2 linked regions of the Homo sapiens genome follow. The protein of the gene in region 1 purifies or fractionates together with the protein of each later gene. This does not show direct contact. Each region holds a gene or a part of one and is shown in the gene's direction. Other genes may lie near its edges. The genes, in order: PLA2G12A and WDTC1.

The links.
Region 2: the proteins of PLA2G12A (region 1) and WDTC1 purify together in Homo sapiens (affinity purification with mass spectrometry; one large-scale study listed by BioGRID and IntAct). This does not show direct contact.

What each region holds. Positions count from the first base shown.
Region 1 is NC_000004.12:109,727,068-109,731,326, reverse strand, and holds the start of PLA2G12A (group XIIA secretory phospholipase A2 precursor), read left to right. Parts: upstream 1-1,256; 5' UTR 1,257-1,517; coding exon 1,518-1,725; intron 1,726-4,259. Other genes in the region: CFI (complement factor I isoform 4 preproprotein), read left to right, coding at 1-94. UniProt on the Homo sapiens protein: PA2 catalyzes the calcium-dependent hydrolysis of the 2-acyl groups in 3-sn-phosphoglycerides. Does not exhibit detectable activity toward sn-2-arachidonoyl- or linoleoyl-phosphatidylcholine or -phosphatidylethanolamine.
Region 2 is NC_000001.11:27,297,008-27,300,815, forward strand, and holds part of WDTC1 (WD and tetratricopeptide repeats protein 1), read left to right. Parts: intron 1-40; coding exon 41-149; intron 150-930; coding exon 931-1,104; intron 1,105-3,808. UniProt on the Homo sapiens protein: May function as a substrate receptor for CUL4-DDB1 E3 ubiquitin-protein ligase complex.

The sequences.
Region 1 (4,259 bases):
CCAAGCTGGAGTGCAGTGGTGCAATCTCAGCTCACTGCAACATCCATCCACCTCCTGGGTTCAAGTGATTCTCCTGCCTCCGCCTCCCGAGTAGCTGGGATTACAGGTGCCCGCCACCACGCCCAGCTAATTTTCTGTATTTTTGGTAGAGATGGGGTTTCACCATGTCAGCCAGGCTGGTCTCGAACTTCTGACCTCAGGAGTTCCAGGCCTCCCAAGGTGCTGGGATTACAGGCGTAAACCACCGCGCTTGGTCTGCCCAATACTTTCAACATTGCTCTGGATCTTACTGTAAAATTCTTGGAAACTGCTGTGATACTAAGATAACCAGATATTTACAACTGATACAAAGTACTACTGCAATAGTTATTTATGGATCCCGCACAATGCTGGGGGCAGGGTGGTAGGTACAGAGAAACAAACGTCACTGTAACTATCAAGTTACAAAATCCCTTGAGTAGAAAAACAATGACTTCCTTAAGATTTATTTTACTTTTTACTGTATTTAAGTTTACACTACTGTTTCTTCCTTACCAGGGGAGAATTTTATGATTTTTATGTTGGCCCATTTTCTTTTTCCGGAAAGTCTAAACTAGCATTTAGCTCGTCCTGATTAGAGTCAGGCACCGCCAAGGCATGGGTTGGCATCTTCCAGATCCCGCTCCCCCAACCGCGGCCACAGCAGATCTGGAGGACCGGGAGAGGACGCAAGGAGGAAAAGCCCTGCTCTGCGAGCTGACAGCCGGACTCTGCCCACATTGCCAATGGAACCACGTCTTCAAGCCGGAAACTCAGCTGGACCTCTCGCAGCGCTCTCTGCGAGGGGGCACAGGGGTTATTTTCTCCGATGTTGTCCACACCCAGAAAAGCTTGTCTCTCGGGGCTACTGTGCTGAGCCCCGACTGGTCAGGTTAGGCCACCGGGGTTAGCTCTGCAACTCTTGCTTCACGGTTAACAGCCCGGAGAGCTTTCTTAAAAAATACCGACGCCCACTGCCACCTGGGACAACGTAATCAGGCTCCCTAGAAAAGGGGCTCAGGCCTGGGTACTTTTTAAGGTTCTCTTGTGAACCAGGACCAAGGGTCTTGGGAGGGTGCCGCGGAGACCACGTGGGCATGGAGGCCCCGCCCCCGTTTCCCGCCCCGCGCGCCCCTCCCCCGGTTCCCCGCCCCCCCCAACCCCGCCCCCGCCCCGCCCCACCCCTGCGCGTCCCGCCCCTCCCGTGCGCCGCTGACGCGCCGTGCTCCGGCGCAGGCGCACAGGGGACGGTTGCTGGCCCAGGTGAGCGGGCGCGCTGGTCCAGGTGAGCGGGCGCGTCCCCGCGACGGCGCTGCCTGCCCGAGGCGGTTCACGTAAAGACAGCGAGATCCTGAGGGCCAGCCGGGAAGGAGGCGTGGATATGGAGCTGGCTGCTGCCAAGTCCGGGGCCCGCGCCGCTGCCTAGCGCGTCCTGGGGACTCTGTGGGGACGCGCCCCGCGCCGCGGCTCGGGGACCCGTAGAGCCCGGCGCTGCGCGCATGGCCCTGCTCTCGCGCCCCGCGCTCACCCTCCTGCTCCTCCTCATGGCCGCTGTTGTCAGGTGCCAGGAGCAGGCCCAGACCACCGACTGGAGAGCCACCCTGAAGACCATCCGGAACGGCGTTCATAAGATAGACACGTACCTGAACGCCGCCTTGGACCTCCTGGGAGGCGAGGACGGTCTCTGCCAGTATAAATGCAGTGACGGTGAGGGGGCACCCGGGCCCAGCGAGGGCTCGTGCTTTCGGGGGATTGGGGTGACGGAGATCCTGGAGGTGTGAGTGACAGATGCAAGGCAGACCTTGACGGTGTCCTTCGGCTGTGGAAAAACTTAACCACTGCTAGAATCTTGCCGTTCTAGTGATTGAGCAAGCTGGGTACAAGTTCGCACCACTATTGTTAGAATGTGAGAGGTCACATTCTAACGGAGAGGTGTACCCCCCGTCCCATTTGCATTGCTTCTGAATTACCTTTTCCCCCCCTCAATTGCACCAAGTTGCCGAAGAACTTACTGACGTAGGAATCATGGGAATAGAGTGGAACAGACTGGTTTTAGCTCATTTTTGCTTCTGTAAATTGGATGAACATGCGAAGCAAACTGAGAATTTAAAAACCATGCCGTATTAACTTTCTCTATAATTGATATTAAATGGTTTTTTTTCTGCAAACCCATAGACAATAACTTGCGACCTTTGTACAGACTTTTGGTGTACTCGAGTGTTGAGAAAGGGTTCCGATAACTCTTCTTTCCTTAGATATCAGTGACCCGCCTCCTCCTCATTGTTGGTTAACGTTAATACAGTTATCTTCATTTACTCTTTTAATATTTTTTGAACTTTCTCTTTGAACCTGAGAATTTGTTTGGTGGCGGTATGAGTACTAATCAACTCAGTATTTCAGGCAGAGATAGTTCTTTTGTAGCACATTTTTGAGTGCTTAAATATTTTAATAGGTCAGAAAAATATTGGACTTTTGTTTGGAAATTGAAAATGTTAAGAGAGCAGTTGGGAGATCATGTTTCCAATAAGATTAGCCAAGGTTAGAGTCTCATTATGCTGGCAGCGGAAAATAATCGGGGATCCAGTGACTTCATTGTTGGAACCTGATTGTATAGGTGAACTTAAAAGGAACTGGTATCATGTAAACCTATGATGCCACATGCTGCCTGCAATTTTCAAGATAATTTCTAGTTTTATGTTAATAGAAGTAAAGGATGAACTGTATCTTGTATACTTTAAAGCGCTGAACAGGTGCTGAGACATGTTGCATTGCTTCTTAAATTTGTGCCTAAACGTTACCACCTAAACGTATGCTTCATGAAGATGTTTTTATTCTTGTAGAACTTGTTCGGAGGATTAAGTGCATAATTTAAGGATCAAATAGTTGCCTTTCCTAAAGCAAATGTTACAGTTTTACTTAGTCATTCCTATTCATTATACAAATATTTGAGTCCCAACTGTGCTTCAGATGTTGTTCTAATTTGAGATTCAGCAGTTAATAAAACAGACAAAAATCTCTGTCCGTGGAGCTTGAGTTCTGGTGAGGGAGAGATGGGCAGTAAACTAGTAAATAAGTAAAATTAGGGGAAGTGTGGAGTCTGATCAGGGCAGACGAGGGGCCATGTTGGAGGCAATTTACTCTTCTAAATGGGTTGTTCAGCAAAGGCCTCACTGATGAAAGAATATTTGAGAAGAAATCTGCACGTGGTAAGGGGAGGGAATGTGGTTATTTGGAGAAACAGCATTCCAGACAGAGGGAATAGCAAGTGCAATGGACCTGAGGAGAAAGGCCAGTCAAGGATGACTCTGAAGGTTTTGGCCTGAGCCAAAGGAAGGAAACGGTTGCCATTTACAGAGATAGGGAAGACTTGGAAGGAGTCGTCTTCATAAATTTATTAGTCTAGGGTTCTAGAGTTTATTTACATTTAAAACATGCCTGAAGTTGAATGAATACCAGCCTTGTTAAAATACTGTTTTAGTCTTTTTATTTTATTTTTTGTTAATATTTTTGAGGCAAGGTCTCCCTCTGTGCCCAGGCTAGAGGGCAGTGGTGTGATCATTGCTCCCTGCAGCCTCCAACTCCTGGGCTCAAGCAATTCTCCTGCCTCAGCTTCCCAAATAGCTAGGACTATAGGCCATGCCCCCACTACACCTGGCTTAATCTTTCTTTTTAATCTTTTTCATCTTCTACAGGCTTCTCAAAATTTACTATTTGGAGTTTAGAGGAAGGTCTCTGGCACAAAAAAACACAAAGGAATTTGAGAATTTAAGAAATGTTATATGCCTCAGTGAAAAAAAATTTTTTGTCTTAGTAAGTACTCTACGTTTAACGGACATGTGGTTTCAAGTCCAAGTCACCATACTGATAGATAATTGGATCTCAATGAAAAAAAAAATTAGGCAGGACGTAATGGCTCATGCCTGTAATCCCAGCACTTTGGGAGGCTGAGGCGGGCGGATCAGTTGAGCTCAGGAGTTCGAGACCAGCCTGGCCAACATGGTGAAACCCCGTCTCTACTAAAAATACAAAAATTAGCTGGGCATGGTGGTGCACACCTGTAGTCCCAGCTACTTGGGAGGCTGAGGTAGGAGAATAGCTTGAACCTGGGAGGTGGAGGTTGCAGTGAGCCGAGACCGTGCCTCCAGCCTGGGTGACAGAGCAAGACTCTGTCTCAAAAATAATAATAATAATAATAATAATAAAATTGCTGTTACTCGAGCAGTCTCTCTGGAACAATTCAA
Region 2 (3,808 bases), on another chromosome or scaffold:
CCTGAGTTGTTGCTGTCACTTTCTCACTATCTCCTGCCAGAAGTCCAGAATGGCAAGATGTCCACCAACGGTGTGTCCAACGGTGTGTCCAATGGCCTGCACCTTCATAGCAATGGCTTCCGGCTGCCGGAGAGTAGGGGACATGTCAGGTGAGGCCAGCTGGCTTGTCCAGCCCTCCAAGCCCCAGTTACACTATATGGACTGGAGGGAGGGACATAACCTGTAAATCTTCCTCCTGACCCACACCCACTCATGCATCCCAGAGAGTGAGGACCAAGGCAAAGAGCCTTCTTGGAGGGTGCCTAGTGTTTCCAGTGCCCCTCTGCCTGGCAGAACACTAGTCATGGTCAGACTGTAGCTCTAGCCTGTTGGTACCAGTAACTGGGGTCAGGACTCAGGAGCTAGCTGCCTCTTAGCACTGAGCTGTCTCCAAAAAGGGGCTGCATACAAATGGGCCTCCGCATTATATTATTCCCCATCCTATAGCATATCCTTGCCTCTTTTCTCTGCCAGCCTCTGTGCTGGGCTTTGGATACAGAGGCGCTCAAATTCCCTAGCCTTGAGAGAAATAGAGTTCTCTAGACAGCGATCCACAGGAGGGACTCGGGTGGTCATAAGGTTCAGCTCAGCATGGAGGCAGGTGGTATCAGCTACTACCATGCCCAGGAGTTGAAGTACAGCTTCATTTCTGCCCTTCTTTTCACTGGCTGAGAGTATTTGGAATGGTATTTGGAATGAAATTCCAAATGGTATTCCCTATCACAGTAATAGGTAATATCCCAGACCAGGGTAGTGGTCCCCTCTTCCAGATAGCAGTCAGATCCCAGGGGCCAAGAAAATCTGGGTGGCCCTCAGGCCATGTTACAGACTCCCTGAGGGGCTGCTCTGACCTTCTTTGACTGTTCTGACTTGGCTCTATTTCCCCTGCAGCCCCCAAGTAGAGCTACCACCATACCTGGAGCGTGTGAAACAGCAAGCCAATGAGGCTTTTGCCTGCCAGCAGTGGACCCAAGCCATTCAGCTTTACAGCAAGGCTGTGCAGAGGGCCCCTCACAATGCCATGCTTTATGGAAACCGAGCAGCAGCCTACATGAAGCGCAAGTGGTGAGTGGCCACTGCAGAGGGGATCTGGGTCAGGATGAGGGAGAAAGCAGCTGGACCAAAAGGCAGGGGCCTGATGGAGCCAAGTTGCCAAGGCATCCAGGGAAAGTGGCAAGAACATATTGCTGCCTCTTAGGGCTTCTTGGCCTCTCCTCCCCACCTCCAGGCTAATGGTGGGCAGGCACCTGACCCATTAATCAGGAAGTCTCAAGCACTAAGGAAGCTCACAGTTACGTGGAACATGTTCAAAACTAGTTTCTACATGGCATATTATTATAAAGTGCTGTGGCCCCTGGGGAAGTATGAGTTGAGGACTGTTAGTCCCAACTGTTGGAGAATTGGACTTTGAAGAGCAGTGGAATCTTGCTAAGTGGAAATGAGGGGTTTGGTGAATTCAGTTGGTATGTGTCTAAAATATTCTGCAGTCCCTTGCCCCTCTAAGGCTTGCTTTCTGTGTTCTTAGACCCTTTGGACTGAGTACAAACCATATCCCAGAGATCCAAAGCTGGCTATGGGTCACGCTAGGGTATGGTGGCTGGTAATAAAGAAGTAGACCATATCTGAAAGAACTCCTCATCTTTGGAGACCATCAGGGCCCCCAGCCCTACTGCCTGCAGCACCAGCAGGCAAGCAGACATGCAGACCCCGCCCCCCCATCCCCCAGCCAGGGCCAGGACTAGAGATGGATAGAGCTGGGCCCACAGCCATTTCTGCTCCGTCTGGCATCCGTCGGCTCTGCCCAGACAGACAGGCCAGCTGGTGTGCCATCGTCTGGCTGCAACTCGGCAGGCCAGAGAGGGAAACTTAAGAAACCCACCCAAGTCAGCAGGATGGTAATGCTAGGTGGGGGTGGGGAAGATGCTGTCCCCCGGCCTTAGCTAAGGCATCAGGAGTTGGCCAAGGGCTCAGGTGGTAGCCAAACCCAGGAGATGACTGTTTTGGATGAATCGTGAGTTGATTCACCTCTCTGTCCAACAAACAGTTGGGTAGAACTCAGTGGTCCTCATCCAGGCTGTAGGCTAAGAGCTCAGCTTCACTCCTGCATTCTTGCTAAGAGAGGTTGGTGATTTCCTAATCCATATGTGCCCTCAGCATGTTCTCTGAGCTCCTACTATGTGCTAGGTACTAGGAACACAAAGTTCTATCACTCTGAGTTCCTGTGCTCCAGAGGAGCCTCTCCAGACAGTGGGTAAAGTGGTGGACATAGTTCAGCATTAAAGAGATAGGAAGCAGTGAGTCTTGTGAATGGTCAGGTAAAGGGCTGTGGGCATCAAGAAAAGTTGGGTCGCTTTAGCTGGGGAGCAGGGAAGCATCAGAAAGACATGGCGTCTGAATGGGCTTTAAGTGTAGGCAGGCTTAGACAGGAGATGAAGGAGAGGAGGGGCCTGTGGGGGAAGGACATTCCAGGGAGATGAAATGGTGTGAACAAAGGCATGGGGGTGGGGGACTGACTGAAGAGCTTGTTTGCAGAACAGCAAATCCATTTGGCTGGAGCAGAGGGTTCGGAAAGGGACTGGCAGGAGATGAGTCTGTGAGGTAGCCTGGGGCCGGCCTAGGGAGAGCTTGGAATGCAGAGCGGTGACGTTGGCCTCGATTCAGTGCATGATGGGCAGCTACTGGAGAGTTCTGAGCAGGAGAGGGATGTGCCGAGGGCTGTCCTTTCAGGGAGATTGATCTGGCAGTGAGTCTAGGAAGGGTGAGCCCTGGGGCCAGCCTGCTCTCTACCCCCATCCCCACATGCCTGCCAGTGACCCCTAGAATGTCACATTCTGTCCTGGGCCAGTCTCCCCAGGGCTGCCATCTGCTCCTGGATGCAGTGGGAGCTGTCACCCTCTGGCTCCTGGCTGGTCTCTGGTCTGGCTCTCCCCAGGAGCTCAGAGGGGCACCTTGCAGGCAGTAATTGGGTTTCCAAACAGTGCCTGCTCCTTCGTCAGAGCCACTCATCCTGACGCAGGCCACGCCATTGAAGCAGCTCTGTTTCCTGCCTGCCCCCACATGGGCTGAGCTGCTGGTTCCTGGTCTGAGCGTGGCTGTTCCGAGGACTGGGTGCTCCCTCTGAGTGCTGCAGAAGGAGGCTCAGGAAGAACCTTCCCATGTCAGGCCTGCCTTAGCCATGCCGGATTGTTGTGAGCTGTGCCCTTGGAGAAGGGGCCATTAACTCTAAGGGGTGCCTCTTACTGCTGCTTGGCACAGTTGGGTCCTAGGCCTACTCCAGCCCAGCTGAAAAAAAAAAATGGCTTCTGAAGAAGCAGTTCCTGTGGCCTGTCTGGCTCTCCAGACAAGAGGCAAGGACAGGTCTGTGGGTGCTGGGGGAGTATGCTTCCTATATTCTGGCACAGGGTGGGAAAAGGAGGGGCTTCTCTGACCTCCTTTCACTTCCTCTTTCCCCGCTTCCCCATCAAAAGCACTCCCACTTCCCTTCATCCATGCTTCAGGAGGTTGGAGAAGTGAGTGGGGACGATTTGGAGCTCCTGGTGTGCACAACCCCCCTTACCATCAGCTTCCAGAGAGCTGACTCTGCCAGACTGTCAGGCCCCATCCTCCAGCCCCAGGAGGTAGAGGCCACAGCTGCTGTGGATCAGTCAGCCAGGACAGGGGGGGGTCTGGCTGAGGGCTTGCTGCCTGCTGGTCAGACCCTGCGTCCCCAGCCTGACACTTCTGGCTTCCCCAGACCACAGAACTGTCCTTGAGGGCCCCCTGCCTTGGA